Regions from separate parts of the Homo sapiens genome. Here region 2 is linked to region 1. The links come from fine-mapping of genetic effects on gene expression. A gene starts in region 1. The other region holds a variant in brackets. All regions are shown on one strand. Distances are from middle to middle.

Region 1 (9,217 bases):
GCAGTGAGCTGAGATCACGCCACTGCACTCCAGCTTGGGCAACAGAGCAAGATTCCATCTCAAAAAATATATAAAAAATAAAAATAGGCTGGGCGCAGTGGCTCACGCCTGTAATCTCAGCACTTTGGGAGACCGAGGCAGACAGATCAACTGAGGTCGAGGTTTGAGACCAGCCTGACCAACATAGAGAAACCCTCTCTCTACTAAAATACAAACATTGGGTGGGGCGAGTCATCGTCTGACGTCTGGCCGTGAGATGTTTCGGGAGCCGGGGTCTCTCCGCTGCAGACATGACGAAGGGCCTTGTTTTAGGAATCTATTCCAAAGAAAAAGAAGATGATGTGCCACAGTTCACAAGTGCAGGAGAGAATCTTGATAAATTGATAGCTGGAAAGCTGAGAGAGACTTTGAACATATCTGGACCACCTCTGAAGGCAGGCAAGACTCGAAACTTTTATGGTCTGCATCAGGACTTCCCCAGCGTGGTGCTAGTTGGCCTCGGCAAAAAGGCAGCCAGAATCGACGAACAGGAAAACTGGCAGGAAGGCAAAGAAAACATCAGAGCTGCTGTTGCAGCAGGATGCAGGCAGATTCAAGACCTGGAGCTCTCTTCCGTGGAGGTGGATCCCTGTAGAGATGCTCAGGCTGCTGAGGAGGGCGCGGTGCTTGGTCTCTATGAATACGATGACCTAAAGCAAAAAAAGAAGATGGCTATGTCGGTGAAGCTCTATGGAACTGGGGATCAGGAGGCCTGGCAGAAAGGAGTCCTGTTTGCTTCTGGGCAGAACTTGGCATGATGGAGACGCCAGCCAGCGAGATGATGCCAACCAGATTTGCCGAAATTATTGAGAAGAATCTCAAAAGCGCTAGTAGTAAACCGAGTTTCATATCAGACCCAGGTCTTGGATTGAGGAACAGGCAATGGGATCATTCCTCAGTGTGGCCAAAGGATCTGACGAGCCCTCAGTCTTCTTGGAAATTCACTACATAGGCAGCCCCAATGCAGACAAACCACCCCTTGTTTGTTGGGAAAGGAATTACCTTTGACAGTGGTGGTATCTCCATCAAGGCTTCTGCAAATATGGACCTCATGAGGGCCGACATGGGAGGAGCTACAACTATATGCTCAGCCATTGTGTCTGCTGCAAATCTCAGTTTGCCCATTAATATTATAGGTCTGGCCCCTCTGTGAAAACATGCCCAGCGGCAAGGCCAACAAGCTGGGGGATGTTGTTAGAGCCAGGAACAGGAAGACCATCCAGGTTGGTAACACTGATGCTGAGGGGAGGCTCATACTGGCTGATGCGCTCTGTTACGTGCACACATTTAACCCGAAGGTCATCCTCAATGCCACCACCTTAACAGGTGTCATAGATGTAGCTTTGGGGTCAGGTGCCACTGGGGTCTTTACCAATTCATCCTGGCTCTGGAACAAGCTCTTCGAGGCCAGCATTGAAACAGGGGACCGTGTCTGGAGGATGCCTCTCTTCAAACATTGTACAAGACAGGTTGTAGATTGCCAGCTGGCTGATGTTAACAACATTGGAAAATATAGATCTGCGGGAGCATGTACATCTGCGGCATTCCTGAAAGAATTCGTGACTCATCCTAAGTGGGCACATTTAGACATAGCAGGTGTGATGACCAACAAAGATGAGGTTCCCTATCTATGGAAAGGCATGACCGGGAGGCCCACAAGGACTCTCATAGAGTTCTTACTTCGTTTCAGTCAAGACAATGCTTAGTTCAGATACTCAAAAATGTCTTCACTCTATCTTAAATTGGACAGTTGAAGTTAAAAGGTTTTTGAATGAATGGATGAAAATATTTTAAAGGAGGCAATTTATATTTAAAAATGTAGAACACAATGAAATTTTTATGCCTTGATTTTTTTTTCATTTTACACAAAGATTTATATATTTTTTTTTTGAGACGGAGTCTCACTCTGTCACCCAGGCTGGAGTGCAGGTGGCATGATCTCAGCTCACTGCAACCTCCGCCTCCTAGGTTCAAGCGATTCTCCCACCTCAGCCACCTGAATACCTGGGACTACAGGTGCCCACCACCATGCCCGGCTGATTTTTGTATTTTTAATGGAGACGGGGTTTCACCATATTGGCCAGGCTGGTCTCAAAACTCCTGACCCTGTGATCTGCCCGCCTCGGCCTCCCAAAGTGCTGGGATTACAGGCGTAAGCCACCACGCCCGGCCAGTATATATTTTTAATTGAGAAGCAAAATTGTACTTCAGATTTGTGATGCTAGGAACATGAGCAAACTGAAAATTACTAACCACTTGTCAGAAACAATAAATCCAACTTTTTGTGCAAAAAAAAAAATACAAATATTAGCTGGGCATGGTGGTGCATGCCTGTAATCCCAGCTACTCGGGAGGCTGAGGCAGAATTGCTTGAACCTGGGAGGCGGAGACTGCAGTGAGCTGAGATTGTGCCACTGCTGACTTTGTCTCAAAAAACAAAACAAAACAAAAAAACAAAATGAAAACAAAAAGCCAGGGCTGCCTCTGCTCAATAATGTTCTATCTTTGTTCCGCCTCTTCTCTGGGGTCTCACTTCTTGGGAGCCTGTGTGAAGGTGAATTCCTCTGAAAGCTGACTGCCCCTATTTGGGACTCCCCAGTCTCTTTCTGAGAAATGGTGACATTGTTCCCAGCACTTCCTCTCCCTTCCTAGGCAGCTTCTGCAGCCACCACTGAGCCTTCCTCACATCCTCCTTCTTCAGGCTTGGGCTTTCCACCTTTCACCATTCCCCTACCCCATGCTGCTCCACCGCACTCTGGGGAGGGGGCTGGACTGGGCACTCTTGTCCCCCAGGCTGAGCCTCCCTCCATCCCTATGCTGCCTGCTTCCCAGGAACATGCTTGGGCAGCAGGCTGTGGCTCTGATTGGCTTTCTGGCCGTCAGGAACATGTCCCAACATGTTGAGCTCTGGCATAGAAGAGGCTGGTGGCTATTTTGTCCTTGGGCTGCCTGTTTTCAGGTGAGGAAGGGGATGGTAGGAGACAGGAGACCTCTAAAGACCCCAGGTAAACCTTAGCCTGTTACTCTGAACAGGGTATGTGATCTGCCAGCAGATCCTTGCGACAGGGCTGGGATCTGATGCATGTGTGCTTGTGTGAGTGTGTGCTGGGAGTCAGATTCTGTGTGTGACTTTTAACAGCCTGCTCCCTTGCCTTTTTCAGGGCAGAAGTCCTCCCTTAGAGTGTGTCTGGGTACACATTCAAGTGCATGGTTGCAAACTTTTTTTTTTAAAGCACTGAATAGTACTAGACACTTAGTAGGTACTTAAGAAATATTGAATGTCGTGGTGGTGGTGAGCTAGAAGTTATAAAAAAAATTCTTTCCCAAAAACAACAACAAAAAGAATTATTTCATTGTGAAGCTCAGTACCACAAAAATTTAAATAATTCATTACAAGCCTTTATTAAAAAAAATTTTCTCCCCAAAGTAAACAGACAGACAATGTCTAGTCTATTTGAAATGCCTGAAAGCAGAGGGGCTTCAAGGCAGTGGGAGAAGGTGCCTGTCCTCTGCTGGACATTTGACAACCAGCCCTTTGGATGGTTTGGATGTATAGGAGCGAAGGTGCAGACAGCAGTGGGGCTTAGAGTGGGGTCCTGAGGCTGTGCCGTGGCCTTTCTGGGGTTTAGCCACAATCCTGGCCTGACTCCAGGGCGAGGCAGGCCAAGGGGGTCTGCTACTGTGTCCTCCCACCCCTACCTGGGCTCCCATCCCCACAGCAGAGGAGAAAGAAGCCTGTCCTCCCCGAGGTCAGCTGCGTTAGAGGAAGAAGACTGGGCATGTCTGGGCAGAGATTTCCAGACTCTGAGCAGCCTGAGATGTCAGTAATTGTAGCTGCTCCAAGCCTGGGTTCTGTTTTTTAGTGGGATTTCTGTTCAGATGAACAATCCATCCTCTGCAATTTTTTAAAAGCAAAACTGCAAATGTTTCAGGCACAGAAAGGAGGCAAAGGTGAAGTCCAGGGGAGGTCAGGGGTGTGAGGTAGATGGGAGCGGATAGACACATCACTCATTTCTGTGTCTGTCAGAAGAACCAGTAGACACTTCCAGAATTGTCCTTTATTTATGTCATCTCCATAAACCATCTGCAAATGAGGGTTATTTGGCATTTTTGTCATTTTGGAGCCACAGAAATAAAGGATGACAAGCAGAGAGCCCCGGGCAGGAGGCAAAAGTCCTGTGTTCCAACTATAGTCATTTCTTTGCTGCATGATCTGAGTTAGGTCACCAGACTTCTCTGAGCCCCAGTTTCCCCAGCAGTGTATACGGGCTATGTGGGGAGTATTCAGGAGACAGACAACTCACTCGTCAAATCCTCCCCTTCCTGGCCAACAAAGCTGCTGCAACCACAGGGATTTCTTCTGTTCAGGTGAGTGTAGGGTGTAGGGAGATTGGTTCAATGTCCAATTCTTCTGTTTCCCTGGAGATCAGGTTGCCCTTTTTTGGTAGTCTCTCCAATTCCCTCCTTCCCGGAAGCATGTGACAATCAACAACTTTGTATACTTAAGTTCAGTGGACCTCAATTTCCTCATCTGTGAAATAAACGGGACTGAAAAATCATTCTGGCCTCAAGATGCTTTGTTGGGGTGTCTAGGTGCTCCAGGTGCTTCTGGGAGAGGTGACCTAGTGAGGGATCAGTGGGAATAGAGGTGATATTGTGGGGCTTTTCTGGAAATTGCAGAGAGGTGCATCGTTTTTATAATTTATGAATTTTTATGTATTAATGTCATCCTCCTGATCTTTTCAGCTGCATTGGGTAAATCCTTGCCTGCCAGAGTGGGTCAGCGGTGAGCCAGAAAGGGGGCTCATTCTAACAGTGCTGTGTCCTCCTGGAGAGTGCCAACTCATTCTCCAAGTAAAAAAAGCCAGATTTGTGGCTCACTTCGTGGGGAAATGTGTCCAGCGCACCAACGCAGGCGAGGGACTGGGGGAGGAGGGAAGTGCCCTCCTGCAGCACGCGAGGTTCCGGGACCGGCTGGCCTGCTGGAACTCGGCCAGGCTCAGCTGGCTCGGCGCTGGGCAGCCAGGAGCCTGGGCCCCGGGGAGGGCGGTCCCGGGCGGCGCGGTGGGCCGAGCGCGGGTCCCGCCTCCTTGAGGCGGGCCCGGGCGGGGCGGTTGTATATCAGGGCCGCGCTGAGCTGCGCCAGCTGAGGTGTGAGCAGCTGCCGAAGTCAGTTCCTTGTGGAGCCGGAGCTGGGCGCGGATTCGCCGAGGCACCGAGGCACTCAGAGGAGGTGAGAGAGCGGCGGCAGACAACAGGGGACCCCGGGCCGGCGGCCCAGAGCCGAGCCAAGCGTGCCCGCGTGTGTCCCTGCGTGTCCGCGAGGATGCGTGTTCGCGGGTGTGTGCTGCGTTCACAGGTGTTTCTGCGGCAGGTGAATGACGGGCGTGGGTCGGTGCGCGCTCGGCTTGCGCACACGGTGTCTCTAAGTGCGCGGGTGACGAGAGTCGGGATGTGCCGGAGACCCCGGGGCGGAGAGCGGGATTACAAGTACAGGAATCCCTGGTCACGCTCCCCGCCCCTGGAAACCCAGCTGGGGCGAGGGAGGGCGTGGACGGGACCGTTCTGGGAGCTCGCCTTTGGCTGCGGTTGGCTCCAGGCCCCAGGCGCAGTTTGCTCGCGGCGTGGGGATGAAGTCCGTGTCCCTGGAGGGGCCCAGGAAGGGCGAGGAAAGCGGAGTGGAGTAAGTTCGTCTAGGATCGGTCCCGGGTGGCTCTGGGATCCAATCTGCGCCGCCCTGGCCCAGGTCCCAGGTTCAGGTCCTTTACGCCACTGTGTCCACCACCTGGCTGAGCGCTGAGGTCAGCGCGGGCTGTTTCCTGGCCCTTGGGAATGTGCCAGGACCCGTCCCCTAAGGACTAGCGAGGAGGTGACTCACTGTGACAAGGAGACCCCAGGGAACGGACTGTATGAGGTCAGAACCCCGCCCGGGATGGGGTACAGCGGGACTCCAGAAGCCCTCTCCCCTGCCCCTTCGCGGTCTCCGTCCTCCCATCGGCACAGTGACCTATTTGGCTGGAACAGTTTGTTCCCAAGGAAGCCGGGCACTGGAGGTCCGGGACACCGCGTCGGGTCCCCGCTCCGCGGCGCGCTGTAGGGGTCGGGGAGTCACGGCCCTGCTCTGGGCGGGCTCTAACCAGCCTGTCAGTCGGGGAAGGGCAAGGGTCTCCTCTACCTCTTTCCCACCGCGGCCGGGAGAATCGCGGCCCAGCCTGTCCTCGGGTCGGGGCGCTGGACTCCGGGGCGGGAGCGGAGCCCACGCCTGGATGGGAGGCGGGGAGGGTTCATGTCTTTGAGGGGTGGGGGGTCTGGGGGGCACGACGCTGCTCAGGGCCTCTATCAGCTGCCTCGGGGGCTCAGGGCTTCCCGACCTAGCCCAGATTCCCTCTCCGAAAGCTACAGGGCTGAGCGGAGCAGGGGGGCGAGTCGCCCCCTGGGGCGCCGCCGCCTGGCGCGGACCACAGCGCGTCCTCTCCGTCCCAAACCCCTGGGGGACACTTGCGCCCTCTTCGTGAGGAAAAGCATCTTGGAGCTGGGTTAGGAACTTGGGGCGCCCAGGCAGCTTCCCCTCTCCTTGCCTCCCTCCACGTCGCGTTTCTGGGAGGACTTGCGAGCGGTTTTGTTTTCGTTGCTCCCGTCTATTTTTATTTTCCAGGGATCTGACTCATCCCGTGCTTTGGGCGTGGAGATAAGGTGGAGGGGCCGGCTCCCGGCGCGCGCGCGCGTGCGTGTCTGCGCGGGCGTGTGTGTGTGTGTGTGTGTGTGTGTGTGTGTGTGTGTCTGTGTCAGAGACGGCACAAGAGCGCGCGGTTTCCCAACAGCGGCGGGAGTTTCGGAAGCCTGGCCGGCTCAGCGTGACGTGTTCGCGGCCCCCCGGTCCCCTCCCATTCTCCCCCTCCCCACCCCAGGGTGACGCGCAGCCGGAGTGGAAGCAGTTTTGGCGGGCGAGCAGCGCCTTGCAGGAAACTGACTCATCACTACTCCCTCCAGCGGTCCGAGGCTCTGCCCACGCACCTCCCACTCCGCGCGTGATTTCCTGGAGGCCGGCGCCCCCTCCCGGCCCTGGCGGGAATAGCACACAGGCTTTCCCGCGGAGTGGGGCTGGCCGGCGCGAACCGCCGCGGCTACTCCTGGGCTCATCCGAGATCAACCCCTATGCCATTACCACCCCTTCAAAGGAGCACTCCTTAGGTTCAACAGTATTCACTGAGCTCTTACTGGAAATTAAAATATGGCTGAAGTCTAAGGCAGGAAGGCCAATAAAGGAGGCTATTTTTAATTGTTTCTAAAACAAGGGTTTGCGTTTCTGAGTTTTCTTTGGGCTGAAAGTTATTATGAGCATGAGAGCAGATTTTGATGGGGGAGGAGAGGCCTATGAGAGCCATAAGAGAAGGAGGGGTGGTAGAAGAGGAGAGGGTGCCTGCCTAGATCCTAGTCCTGTCTTGAACTCCCGAGAGCCAGGGAATATCCAGCACCTTGATGAAGCCCTAGGCGGGCGCCTCCTCCTTGTGCCTATGATGTATTGAGACCCAGAATGTCCATTTCAAACATACCAGTGTGTCTCCGCTTGGCTGGCAACCCAAGAGTGCCCATCTGAGGAATTGTGCCAAACACTTGCTTGAATCTTCAATCTGGATTAAGTTGGTCTCGGGAGGCAGGGCCTCAGCAATCTATATTTTGAAAAAACTCCCTAGGTGCTTTTCTTTCTTTCTTTTTTTCTTTCTTTCTTTCTTTCTTTCTTTCTTTCTTTCTTTCTTTCTTTCTTTCTTTTTCTTTCTTTCTTTCTTTTTCTTTCTTTTCTTTCTTTCTTTCTTTCTTTCTTTCTTTCTTTCTTTCTTTCTTCCTTTCTCTTTCTCTCTTTCTTTCTCTTTCTCTCTTTCTTTCTTTTCTTTCGACAGAGTTGCACTCTGTCACCCAGGCTGGAGTGCAATGGCACCATCCTGGACTCAAGTAGTCCTCCTGTTTCAGCCTCCCAAGTAACCGGGACCACAGGCGTGATCCCCCCGCCCCCATGCCCAGATTTTTTTTTTTTTTTTTTTTTTTTTGAGATGCGGTCTCGCTCTGTCACCCAGGCTGGAGTGCAGTGGCGTGATCTCGGCTCACTGCAAGCTCCGCCTCCCGGGTTCACGCCATTCTCCTGCCTCAGCCTCCCGAGTAGCTGGGACTACAGGTGCTGCCATCATGCCCGGCTAATTTTTTTTTGTATTTTTAGTAGAGACGGGGTTTCACCGTGTTAGCCAGGATGGTCTCAATCTCCTGACCTCGTGCTCCGCCCTCCTCGGCCTCCCAAAGTGCTGGGATTACAGGTGTGAGACACTGCACCCAACCACCCAGCTAATTTTTATTTATTTTTATTTTTAGTAGAGACAGGGTCTCAGCTAGTTGCCCAGGCTAGTCTTGGACCCTTGGGCTCAAATGATTCTCCCACCTCTGCCTCCCAGAGTATTAGGATTACAGGCATAAGCCACTGCCCCTGGCCTCCCCAAGTGATTGTGATGGGCCTCTCTGGTTAAGAAACCTCAAAATTAGAGAGGGAGTGGGGTTCAATACTACAGCACAGGACTCAGGGCAAACAGGCCTGGGTTCAGATCCTGGCTGTGCCACTTATGAACTGTGTGATGTTAGGCAAGTTACTTAACTTATCTGAGCCTTGGTTGCCTCTTCTGTAAAAAGGGAGCTAATAGATATCCACTTTTTAGGAGGATTGATATTTTTAAACTGCTTAGAACAGCCCCCAAACATAAAAATATATAAATAAATCCCAACTCATGCCTAGCAGAGGGTGGATAGAGGTTATTTGAGGGCTCTGTCCACTGTACTGGGTGACCCCTTTATGGGGCAGTGGCCTTTGGCCTTTTTAGCTGTATGACTCAGGGGCAAGTCTCATATCTCTTCCATCTCCTGCCCTTTAAACTTGGTGTGAAGTTACCAAGAGCCTCCTCTCCCAACCAGCTGGGACGTGAAACTGTGGGCTCCACTGATCACAAGCAGTGGGGTGAGGTGGGGTGGAGCAGATGTGGCATGTGTCCCGGGCTTCCTGCCTCATGAGGACTCAGCAGAGCTTTCACCCCCAGAAACTGCAAGTTGGGACTTGTCCCTAGGAAAATCCAGTTGCTGCCAAGGTCGTGCAGTCACTCAGCCCTGGAGTCAAGCCAGAGCAGGCAGGTAGGTGCCAGGG
Region 2 (11,904 bases), 78 kb after region 1:
TGCGTGGATCATCTCCCCACCCAACCCTGCCATCCCACAGATGAAAAACAGACCTTTATTGGTATGAAGGCTTGAGGTTAGGGAATTATGTGTTACAGCAGTTGACCTACCATACTCATCTGCTGTTTGTTGTCACCCCCGCTTCAGTGTGGAATGTAGAACGCATGTCTTTGTTAGAGGTAGGGAGACATTTGGAGGGTGAAAGTCCCGCTCCCAGGGCCACTCTTGGGAAGATGATTCTGGCCTGTGGGACTATACTGGAGGGACACTGTTGGACTGGCTCTTCCAAATACAGGGTGAGGGGAAAGGCAGGCCTTGCTCTAACTAGTCCTCCCCTGCCCTGGGTTCTGAAAAGCCTTGGGAAAGGAAGCAATTGGAAAGCAGATCCTCTTGTGGGAAAATTACTCGCAGCAGCCTAGTGTCTCCTGCCTAAGGGTAGAACACAGGCTGCTGAGCAACCAGCTCCTCCTCTGACAGTGGGGCCAAAGTACCCATACCCTTCCTCCTGGGTCCAGGTGGGCAGGTGAGGGAGGCCAGGGAGGAGAGGATCCCTAGACATCAGCTTCCTGCCTGGGCATGCATGCCAGGCTCTCAGTCCCTGGAGCCAGCTCCCTCACTCAGGCTCTCCAGAGAGTTTAAAGAGAGGGCTGGCTCTGGGGCTATAACCTGCCCAGTATGGGTGGCACCAGCTTAGCTCAGCCTCTGAGGGCTCCTTTTCGATGAAACCTCACAGCATCCAGCCCTTTAACTCATCAGTCTCCATCTTCATCCCACCCCACCCGCTAACTGCAAGTCAGGCAGGCTAGACTGATTCATTACTATAGAATGAAAGGCAGCATGTTATGGGAGAAGGAACCCTGCCACCATCTAGGCGTGTGGCTTCAGGCAAGCTCTGTAAAATGGGGATAACTGTTCTGATCCTGCCCACTGTGTTCTGTAAGTTGGGGGTACTATGCAAATGAAAAAAATAAATAGGATGGACTGGGTGTGGTGGCTCATGCCTGTAATCCCAGCACTTTGGGAGGCCGAGGCAGGCGAATCACCTGAGGTCAGGAGTTCGAGACCAGCCTGGCCAAAATGGTGAAAGCCCGTCTCTACTAAAAATACAAAAATTAGCTGGGGGTGGTGGCGCATGCCTGTAGCCCCAGCTACTCTACTTGATAGGCTGAGGCAGGAGAATTGCTTGAACCCAGGAGGCGGAGGTTGCAGTAAGCCGAGATTGTGCCACTGCACTCCAGCCTGAGTGACAGAGCGAGACTCTGTCTCAAAAAATAAATAAAATAAAATAAAATAAAATAAACATAAATAAAAATAAACAGGATGAGGGGTGTTTGAGAGTTACCAGGTGCTATGGACTGTAAGGGGTGGCTGATTAATGGGATTGAGAGGGAAGCAATTTTGATGGGGGAAGAGTGCAAAGGCGGGGTCTGGAGTCAGCCCAGAGGAGGGGCAGGTAAGAGCAGAGGAGCTCCTGAGTGACTGGAGGCAGGGTGTGTGCTCAGTGGGTAGGAGGAGAGCTTGCAGCCTTGAGACTGCAAGCTCAAGGCAGCAGGGAGTGTTGTCATGGGAAAGTGAGTGTGGCTTCCCAGGACCTGACTTCTCCCTCTGCCCTGGAGAACCAGGCAGCCAAGGGTCCACTTGGCTGGGATGAGCCTTTGGCAGTTGCTCCTGCCTGTCTCCTTTCCAGACAGGTGCAGTCACTCACCTGCGGGCTCTTGGCTGCCCACGCCCTGACCTGGCACCTGTCCTGGCAGGCAGCATGCTGGGCAGGCTCTACCCTTAGAGCCAGGCTCTTTCCGTGAGCTGCTGGCTGGGGCCTCCTGGCTCCCCCATCTGTCTGGGCCTAGACACTGTGCCTGGTGGTTCTTTCTGCTCCTTAAACTCATGTTTGACCACCTGCTGGCCCCAGGACCAATCCCTGGCTTATCCCCAATCCCGCTGCCCTTACAGGGCCCTAATAACAGTGAGCAGGTTAATCACTGTCCCCCTCCCCCAACCAGACAGATCAGAGGTGTCAGAAGCTCAGAGCTGTAAGGAACCTTAACACTTACCTATTCCGTTCTCTTTGTGTACAGAGGAGGAAACTGATACCCTGAGAGGAAAAATGACTCACCCAAAGGAACCCAGCAAATTAATGGCAAAGAGAGGCCTAGAGCCTGGGCCTCCTGACTCCTATTGCAGGGTTCTTTCTACATCCCCAAGCCCTTGGCTTTCTGTCACGGAGTCCCTACCAGCTCCAGGTCCTGTCTCTGCATGGAGACCTGACATGACCCAGGCCAGCCTCCTTGGCTCAGGAGTTCCCTCCAAGCTGCTTGGGATCTGGGGATGTGCAGGGCTCTGGATGAGTTGTCTCAGCCCAAACACCAGGGTTTGCTCAGAGCCCAGCACCACAGCCTTCAACCAGGGCTTTGAAGAGGCCAGGGTGGGGCCAGAGCCGGTCCTGTCGGTGTGTGGGGCCCTTTCCCTCTCCCCAAGGCCCATGAAATTGGCTGTATCTCTTCTCACCCTCCTTTGATGTAGTCAAGGAAGGTGCACTCTGACTCCACAGCAAAGGAAAGCAGGGTGACCTTCAAAACAAAAGGGAGCTTGGTCAGTGGGGAGCCTGGGGTCAGGGGAGATGGGTTATGATTCGAGAGCTGACATTGACAGAACACTCGGCATGTGCCAGTTTTGCATGCATGACTGCATGCACTGCCCACACCACCCCATGAAGTACTATTATTATCCCCACTTTATAGCCAAGGAAACTGAAACCCAAAGAGGTGGTGCAATGTGCCCAAGGACACTGCCAGGGCAGAGAAGGGATCTGAAACCAGGGTGTGTCTGACTTCAGAGCCTGCACTCTTGACCTTGACGGAAGGGTCCCATCTGTGTCAGTGGAACCGGGGTCCAAGCCAAGGGTGTTAGTTTCCTCTAAGTGGGCACTGGCTCTTCAGCCCCAGGGACCTAGGGTGGGGTGTGGAGGACAAGGGGGCCCTCCTGGCACAGGCCTAACAACCTGCCAATGCCGACCAGCTTCAGGCTTCCATGTGCCTAGAGCTATTAGTCCTGAAATGTGCCTCTTTGGACTGTGCTTATCTTAAATCTTACTGGTCCCATCTCATCCCTCTCAGACCCAAGATCCTGCCTCATAAGTAGCCCATCCTTTTCCCCAGAGGTAACTGACTACCCCAGGCCCCCTCCCCCAAGCAGAGGCCTTTTAACCTATGCCCTGGCAAAGTTAGCTTTGGCTTTGCCAAGACAGGCAGCTACCTGGCAGCTCATTATCATAACAATTTAGAATCAAGGAGACAAATGAAAGCCTGGCATCCTAGGCCAATTATATGAGACAAGATTAGGGCAGAGGACCTTTCACCTGTGTAAGAGAACGAACTCCTCTCTGGTAGTTTGGGAGCCCCCTATTCATGAAGATTCAGCTGTTTTTACAGGCTCATTGGGAGGGCCAGGTGAGAGCACCACCCTTACTTGGCAGTAAGACCCCCAGCTATTGTGGTTAAGGTATTAGGCACCTGGATGAACCACAGGCCTCCTTCCAAGTGTGGCAGCTCAGACTTACTAGGAACCACGGCAGTGGCTTCAACCCTGACTGATGACCATGAGATGCCCTGGGGGCTCTTAGATCATCCTGCAGCCCAGACCCATTATAGCCGAGTTTCCGGGGCTACATGAATGTTTCAGAGATCTTCTTTTTTTTTTTTTTTTTTAGCTCTTCACGTAAGTCTAATCTGCAGACACAGTTGACCACTCCCCATTCCAACCCCCAGGATGAAGCAATGCCCTAACTGCCCTGACCATATGGGTTCACCCAGGGGCTCGCAGGGTGAAAGCAGACTTTCCCCTATTCAAAGGGTAGTGTCCCTAGACCAGAGCGTCAGCATCACCTCGATGCCAGGTAGAAATGCAGAAATGCAGATTCTTGGCATTTTCACAAGATCCCCAGGGGATTCTGCACACCATAAGTAAGGGATGAAAAGCACTAAACACAGATTCCTGGGCCTCCTAAAGTGGAATCCCAGGGAACTGGCCTGGGCGTCTGTATTTCAGCAAGCTTTCTGCATCCCGGGTGATTTTTCGCGATGAAGATGGGGAAATGCTGGAGTAAAAGGAAAGTCAAGAGACCTGGGCCTAGGCCCGCTCTGTCTCCAGCTCACTGTGTGACCTGGGACAAATCGCATGCCCTCTCTAGGCCACAGTTTCTTCGTCTCTAAAGTAAGAAGGCTGGATGAGATCAGTGGTTTTTGAACCTTTTTATTCCCAGCTGGGGAAGGTGCTGTCTTCCCTAGGGGAATTTAGGAAGGCGTGGGAGAATTTTGGGGGTTCTCATAATGACTGGGGCTCTACTGGTAGCTATGGGCAGCAGCCAGGGGTGCTAAACATCCTGTGAGATGAAGAATTTTCCTGCCCAAATGCTGACAGCCTCTCCACTAAGAAACACCGCAGCCTTGGACAAAGGAAATATGACTCCAAGCCCCAGTCTGTGAAGCAGTTACAATCAAAGAAGTGGTGTTCAGTCCCCTTTGAATGAGCAGAGTAATTTTACAGTTCACAAGCCTGCATCTCCCATGTGTCTGTCACAGCTGCCCTGTGCAGTGGCAAGGTGGGGATGATTTATTAGTCCTACTTTACAGACGGAGAAAATGAGGCTTCTCAGAGGAACCCCAGAGCTCCTGAAAACCTCTTCTAGGTCTGGAGATACAGTCTGCCTGACTCAAATGACCAGGCTTGGCTGCACTAGCCATGGGCCTCTAGAGTGAGGAAGGAACACAGAGAGGATGAATCTGGGTGTGTTTGCACTGCAGAGAAAGTGGCTTGTTCTAGAAATGCACTGTGAGCTCCACCTCAGGGCCTTTGCATGTGCTGTTCTCTACAGCAGGAATGCTGGAATTCCCTTTCCCCAGTATCCTCAATACTTCCTCCATTGCCTGTCCCTTTACCCTTTATACTTTTTCCATAGCTCTCATAATCAACTGACACACACAGGCATGTGTGTGTGTGTGTGTGTGTTTTTTTTTTTTCTCTGTCTCCTCCCACTAGAATATAAGCACCAGGGATTTGGGTCTGTCTTGTTTCCAGCTGTATCTGATGTGCCTAGAATAGTGCCTGGCACACAGTAGCACTCAGTAAGTATTTGCTGAAGAAGCGTATGAATGTCCTCAAGACCAGCCCCGAGAAGCCACTAGGCCGGCGTGTCATCCCAGGAAGGTCACGGTTAAGCAGGGGCAGCGCCCGTAGCAGCTGCCAGCTCTGGAGTGAGATGTCATGTTGAGTCCCATCTCTACCACTTTCTAGCTGTGTGACCTTGGCTGAGTCACTTTCCTGCTTGCAGCCTTGGTTTCCTCTTTCATGA[C/T]TAGGGGATGATAATATCTGCCTCTCAGGGCAACAACCTGTGAAAAGCACCAACGTGGGGAATTTCCCAGGGTAGGGGCCCAATAAATACGACTTCTCTTCCTCTTCCTTCCTGCAGGAAGTCCCGTGGATGTCTCTGCGATTCCTCATGCTAGATACAGCCAGCGCCTGTTGTGTGGTCTGCAAGTCAACTCTCTCCCCTGGCTGTTGCTCCATCTGCCCCACCCCTCCCCACCCCATCTCTCTTGGATGTCTGATTCCCACGCTCAGCCCCTGCACACACACAGACGCACGGGCCTCCCTGATACCAGACCTAGCTTGGGGCTCAGAATGTCTACACCCGGCTGCAGAGACCGGGGTGGCTACTCACTGTGCCAGAATTCACGTATTTCTTTTTCTTCATTTTCTTTTTCGGGTTTACCACCTGCAGGAAAAACCAGTTACCAGGTAAGGCATGCTTCCAGGCAGTCAGGGTGAGTCTTGAGGGCTTCCAACCACCCATGGGTGTGGTCCAAGCCCAGCCCCATTAGAGTGTGGGGTGTGAAGACCACGGGGCCAGGGGAGAAGGGTTTAAGGAGGATTTGTGGGAGACTGGTATTGAGTCTGGGTTACACAACTGGGTTCTCCCATCAGACCCAGGGTCCCACGATCAACCGGGAATATTTATTTAACCTTCTCTCCCACTGTTCCCCGGAACACACGCACCCTCCACCCAGTATAGCCAAAGAAGTCTTGATGTTGCAAAGCGGCCCTATCTGTACCTGTCCCTTGTGTTGGTTGAGGCTGCTCCCCTCACCAAAAATGCACCCCCTTCCTCTCTCAGCCAATTCCAATCTCCCCTGTTCCTCCTTTGGGACCCAGCCCAAGGGCTGCCCAGGGCCTCTGAGGCTCCCCTCTCCATCACCATCCCTCTTACTTGGCAGCAAGAACCTCTTTAGCTATTCTTTGAGTGTAAGCTTTAACTTCCAAACCAGACCTGTGTCAGATAAATCATGGGGCTAGGCTCAGAGTAGGTGCTCAGAGAAGGCTTGTTGGTGGCTAACTCAGCGGTCTCAACCAGGGGCGATTTTACCCCCAGGAACGTTTGGTAACATCTGGAGACGGTTTTGGTTTCCACAACTGAGGGGGTGAGTAGAGGCCAGGCATGCTGCTAAACATCCTACAGTACACAAGACAGCCTCCCACGGCAGGGAGTGATGCAGTCCCAAATCCCAGTAGTGCCAAGGCCAAGACTGGGCAAAGTGACGAGAGCCACCCAGCCCTGAGGCCCCCCACGAGACTTCCGCACTTACTGTATTTGTATTCTCATTTGACCCTCGCCAGTTTTTCTTTGTTTTGTTTTTAATAAGGGAAGTCTAGGCACAACTTTTCCCTAATGTCCCATCAAACAAAGCCAGGCAATTTTCATACCTCCTGTGCTGCCTGTTGGTTTCTGGTGAACTCATTTCCCCTTTCCCTGTCTTTGTTCCCACAGAGGCCGTCAGCTGATCTTTACCGTGGTCTCTTCTGTCTGGGTGAGTATTGCTATCTACTTCCAGCAAGAAGGAAACTAAAGCACAGCGACACCAGGTGATTTGCCTAAAGTCACACAGCCATCTGGGTAGTGACAGGATTAGAAACCAGGTTTCCTGCCCCCGGGCCAGTGGTGCATACATTGGTGCCACCTTGATAACAGATACAAACAGATCTCTTTGACATACATTTATGGGGTGGGTGGAGACATATATTGCTTCTCCCCTGGAATCATCTATCACCTATGTTGGAGAGAGAAGATATGTCCTCAGGGCAAAAAGTGACAAGGGCCATGGAACAAGGGGGATCACAGAAGTGTCAGGGGAGTTAGAGGAAGGAAAGACCACTCTAGGTGAGAGTGTCAGCAAAGCCTCTCTGGAGCAGGAAGTCTTGAAGGCAGACTTAGAGGCACAGGAAGGCTCTGGGCACGGAGAGATGGATGTCAGAGGAGGTTCTGTGGGAGAAATGAATAGAACCCAGGCCCAGTTTGATGGCAGAACCACAGGGTGGAAGAGTAAGCTGGGCTGGTTGGAGGAGAGCCTAGAATGCCCAGTGAAAAATGTCTGAATGTCACCCAGCGGCCTGCAGGGAACTCTGATGACCCCCAAGCTGGTAGGAGACAAAATCAGAGCAGGCTCTAGGACACTGGGGCCTGGTGGAGGTGAGTGTGAGGGGAGGAGGAGGCTCATCCAGGAAATATTTGCCTAGTTCTGCCACCTAATAATAGCTGTGTGACCTTAGGCAGGTTACTTAACCTCAATGTGCCTCAGTCTCCTCATCTCTAAAATGGGAATAAGAAGTACCTGCCTCCCGGAAAGGTATGAGGATTAAATGGGCCAATGCAAGCAAAGTGCCTAGAACAGTTTGGAATGTAGTAAGTATTATCTATACGTGTCTGTTGCTTTTTTCTAAGACGGGGTCTTGCTCTATGGCCCAGGCTGGAGTGCAGTGGTGGGGTCATAGCTCACTGTGGCCTCAACCTCCCGGGCTCAAGCAATCCTTCCAGGTAGCTGCCACCATGTCTGGCTATTTTTTTTTTTTTGGTAGAGATAGGATCTCGCTATGTTACTCTGGCTGGTCTCAAACTCTTGGGCTCAAGCAATCCTCCTGCCTCAGTCTCCCAGAGTGTTGGGATTACAGGCGTGAGCCACTGCACCCAGCCTTAGTTGCTATTTTTCAAAATTACTACTACTATTATTACTGCCACCATAAGTCCATGCGAGAGGTCATGAGGACTTGGGGGTATTGGGACAGGTGCTGAGCTATGGTGAGAACAGCGCTGTCAAGAAGTGACCACGCCTCTTGGGCCCTGGGCGTGGCTATAGAGGTTCGAGAGAGGGAGGGGTTGGGGTGACCAGGTAGACACAGAAGGAAGGCGCTGGATTTGGGGCACAGGTGGGAAGTTCACGTGGGAGGTCTGGCAAGCTGTGCAGGTAGAAACTGAGGGCCTGGGCGAGATGGTGAGAGAGCCCGGGAGAGAAGACCAGAGCACCCTCTTTAGCACTGGAGGACGCCCCCTCCACGGGGTTACCCAGATGGTGAGGTGCTCACGGACACATTCATGGGAAAACAGCTTAAGTAGGCAAGCTGTTAAGATGAGGGCAAAATGGCAGCCCCAGTGCTGCACTGTGCCTCAGTTTCCCAATCTCTCCCTTGAGGGTGTTGAACTATCGGAATGGACAGCATCTCAAACTTTTGCTCCAACATAGCCCTCCCAGCTGGGGAGAATGAACCCGGAGTCCTGAGAGTAACCAAAGATTTGGCCACAAGCATGTTTCTTCTAAGCTTTCTATGTTATCTTTAAATTAGCCTGTATTCCACATTTCCACTCTCTGATATAACTGCTTTAATGTTAAAGCAATGTTCTGTTCTCAGATCCCTGTTTACCCTGAGGTTTCATGCTCCCAGCCTCAGCCTCTCCAGCCCCGCCACGGTGAATCCCATGCAGGGGGCCAGCGCCACCTAGGGGCCAGCCGAGGAGCTGCCCCTCCACTAAGTCACCTCCCTTCTTCTTGGTGGTCAGGCGGGGACAGGACAGGTCTGGAATCTGCCCTCCTGCGCACATTAGGTGGGGTGGGTGGGGGCACTGAGGGGCTCCTAGGGGCCAGGAGCTGTGCTGGCTCTGGGGATGCAGCAGTAAGTGCAACACAACCCCCACCCTGAGGACTTCAAGGTCTTTGAGGGGTTGAATAGTGTCACAAAACAGAAAATAGCCAGAAGGAACCCCAGGAGCACTGACAAGTGTCCACTCCAGGCTCTGGGGTGGGGCGGGTGTGCAGGTGGACACAACTTCCTGGAGGAGGAACACCCACAGGGAGGCTCCGTGGACCAATAGCTCCTACCCAGGAGAAGACAAGAGGGAGTCTCAGGTGGAGGCACCCATATGAATCGAGCCCTGGAGGCTGAGACAGCACGGAGGTTCAGAGAGCCTCAGGTGGCAGGACGGGGATGAATGTGGGAATGGGCAGAGGGAAGGGGCAGGGGCCAGCTCCTAGGGGCCTCCAAAGGCATGTGATGTGTGTTTTTATTTACATGCACAGCCAGGCGTGGTGGCTCACACCTGAAATCCCAGCACTTTGCAAGGCCGAGGCGGGTGCATCACCTGAGCTCAGGAGTTGGAGGCCAGACTGGGCAACATGGCAAAAACCCATCTCTACCAAAAATGCAAAAAAAAAAAAAAATCGCCAGGGTGGTGGTGTGTGCCTGTGGTCCCAGCTACTTGGGAGACTGAGGTGGGAGGATAGCTAGAGCCTGGAAGTAGAGGTGGAGGTTGCAGTAAGCCGAGATTGTGCCACTGCACTCCAGCCTGGGTGAGAATGAGACTCCATCTTAAAAAAAAAAAAAAAGCACGCATACACAGATTGCGGGTGGCTGGCTGGGGAAACAGCATCCCAAATGAAAGAGCTTGGAACTTCACCCTGTAGGTCAGTGGATCTCAGCTGCGGTGGGAGCATCTTTCAGTATCTCTTCCCACCTCCCATGTGCGAACCAGGCTAAGGAGGTGGGTGGAATGCCCTACACAGATTTTAAGCAGGGGAGCGATGTGATCAGATCACTATTTTGGTGGAGTACGCTGGTTACTGTGTAGAGGACAGAAGGAAGAAAGGAGGCTGTGGCAAAGCCCCATAAGGGGGGAGATGATGAAGTTGGTGGTGGTGGCCTGAGATGAGGGGAACGATGTCAGAAAACATGGGTGGTAGGCGAGCAGTGTTTGCTCGTGGACTGGATATGGAATGAGGGATGGGGAAGTTAAGTATGACCCCTAAGGTGCCCTGAGCCCCCATGATGGGAATATTTGAGATGAAGCCGGCTCGCCAGGAGGACGGGAGTGCTGTGGGAGGTTTAGCTAATGTGTTCAGTTTTGGAAGGCTGAGCTACAGGAAGGGCCAGCAGACAGCTGGACATAGGAGCCTGACACTAGGGCAATGCCAGGGCCCGAGGCACAGGTCTTTACTGGCTGGAGCCTGTTCCCTTTTCAGGCAGTTCTGATTCTAGCAAGGCCTTCCTGCCCCAAACCAGCCTCCCCCTGGGACTGCCAGAGCTGTGCTCCTTTTTCAGCTGATGGCCTTCCGATGTGTGCAGACAGTGCTTCTGCCTCCCAGTGTGGCACTTTCTCTTGTTGATTACAAAGAAGCAGGGATCAACAACTGAGAAAACAAGTCAATTGAATGCTTTCTGCTCTTAGCCCGAGAGAAACAGCTCCTTCTGGGCCTGTCAAGCACCTTTAGAAGCCAAGCTCGGAGAGATCTGACCCCTTCCCTTCACCTCCCTAAATCTCCTCAAAGGAGGCCAGAGAATGGTGGCATCTGCTTCTCTCTGACTGGGGTGGGGCGGGGGAGCGGGGACAAAGACAGCTTCTCTCTTTGCAGATGCAGAAAACAAAGCAATGTACTGTATTAGAGCCCTTTCAAATAAATTCATCCACACTCCATCTTCACAATAGCCATGTTCAATCTCATTCAGCATGCGAATGTATAACACACCTACTGTGTGCCCGGCAGTGCCCTGGCCAGTGAGGGGAGGCAACAGACAGGGCTGTCACCTCACCAGCCCTTGGAAAGTCTAGTTGGAACACAAGACCTGCCCACTCAGAACCGACATGCAGGGCAAAGGAGTGGGGGTAGCATGGGATTTGGATTCAGTGATGGAACTCAAGGCCAGCTCTTCAACTTTGCTGGCTGAGTGGCTGCTAGCATGAGGACAGTGCCAGGATGGTAGGATGGTTGTAAAATGTGAACCTCTGGGCACACAGTGCTCAGCAGATGGTGACAGAAGACAGTGCTGACCTCTGGGTCAGGCATTGTTCCATTAACTTATTTAATTCTCAGTTTGCATGGCACAGAGTAGTTCAGAGACTTAGCCAAGGTCACGTAGCTAGTAAGTGGTAGAGTCAGGATACGAACACAAGCAGTTATTTGGGTTATAAGTATCTGCCATTAAGTGGGTTTGGCATGAACCATGATGTCTGTGGAAGTTCAGACAAGAAAGCACGGGGACAAGAGTGGCTGGGAAGACCTCACAGAGGAGCAGGACCTGAGCTAGATTTGGAAGGTGGGGAGGGAATTGCAAAAGGGAGAGCACACAGTAGAACGCGGTGGCTCAGGCCTATAATCCCAGCACTTTGGGAGGCCAAGGCAGGAGGATCGCTTGAGCCCAGGAGCTCAAGACCAGCCTGGGAAACATAGCGAGATCCTGTCTCTACAAGAAATTTAAAAAATTAGTTGGGCATGGTGGTGCGTGCTTGTGGTCCCAGCTACTCGGGAGGCTGAGGTGGGAGGATCGCTTGAGCCTGGGAGATTGGGGCTGCAGTGAACCAGGGCAACAGAGTGAGGCCCTGTCTCAAAAAAAAAAAAAAAAGAGGGAGAACACACACATGCACACGCATACACACACACGCACGCGCACACACACATACATGCACACACACACACACACGCATGCGCACACACGCAAATACATGCTCACACACACACACACACATGCAGACATTGTCCCTTGAGGGCAAATGCTACTGTTACACCTCCAGAGAGACCAGGTGCCTTGTCC

What was found. PIP is the estimated chance that this variant, and not a neighbour inherited with it, causes the effect.
Region 2: its variant is fine-mapped to the expression of CDKN1A in whole blood (TOPMed, PIP above 0.99).

The regions. Positions count from the first base shown.
Region 1 is chr6:36,673,527-36,682,743 of GRCh38, forward strand. CDKN1A (cyclin dependent kinase inhibitor 1A) reads left to right here and starts at 5,188. Exons shown (of 3, transcript NM_000389.5): 1 at 5,188-5,272. PANDAR (promoter of CDKN1A antisense DNA damage activated RNA) reads right to left here and starts at 1,600. Exons shown (of 1, transcript NR_109836.1): 1 at 95-1,600. DINOL (damage induced long noncoding RNA) reads right to left here and starts at 5,033. Exons shown (of 1, transcript NR_144384.1): 1 at 4,083-5,033. It also overlaps the pseudogene LAP3P2. RefSeq lists enhancers at 2,700-2,789, 2,840-2,909, 2,889-4,088, 5,281-5,470, 5,482-6,069 and 1 more and silencers at 5,001-5,230, 6,801-7,190.
Region 2 is chr6:36,750,529-36,762,432 of GRCh38, forward strand. It overlaps CPNE5 (copine 5), which reads right to left. Exons shown (of 21, transcript NM_020939.2): 13 at 5,717-5,770; 14 at 2,506-2,567. Among named protein-coding and RNA genes, the nearest start is that of RAB44, 59 kb to the left of the region's middle. RefSeq lists enhancers at 4,834-6,033, 8,719-8,908, 8,744-9,712. The variant C/T (reference allele first, on the strand shown) is at 5,348.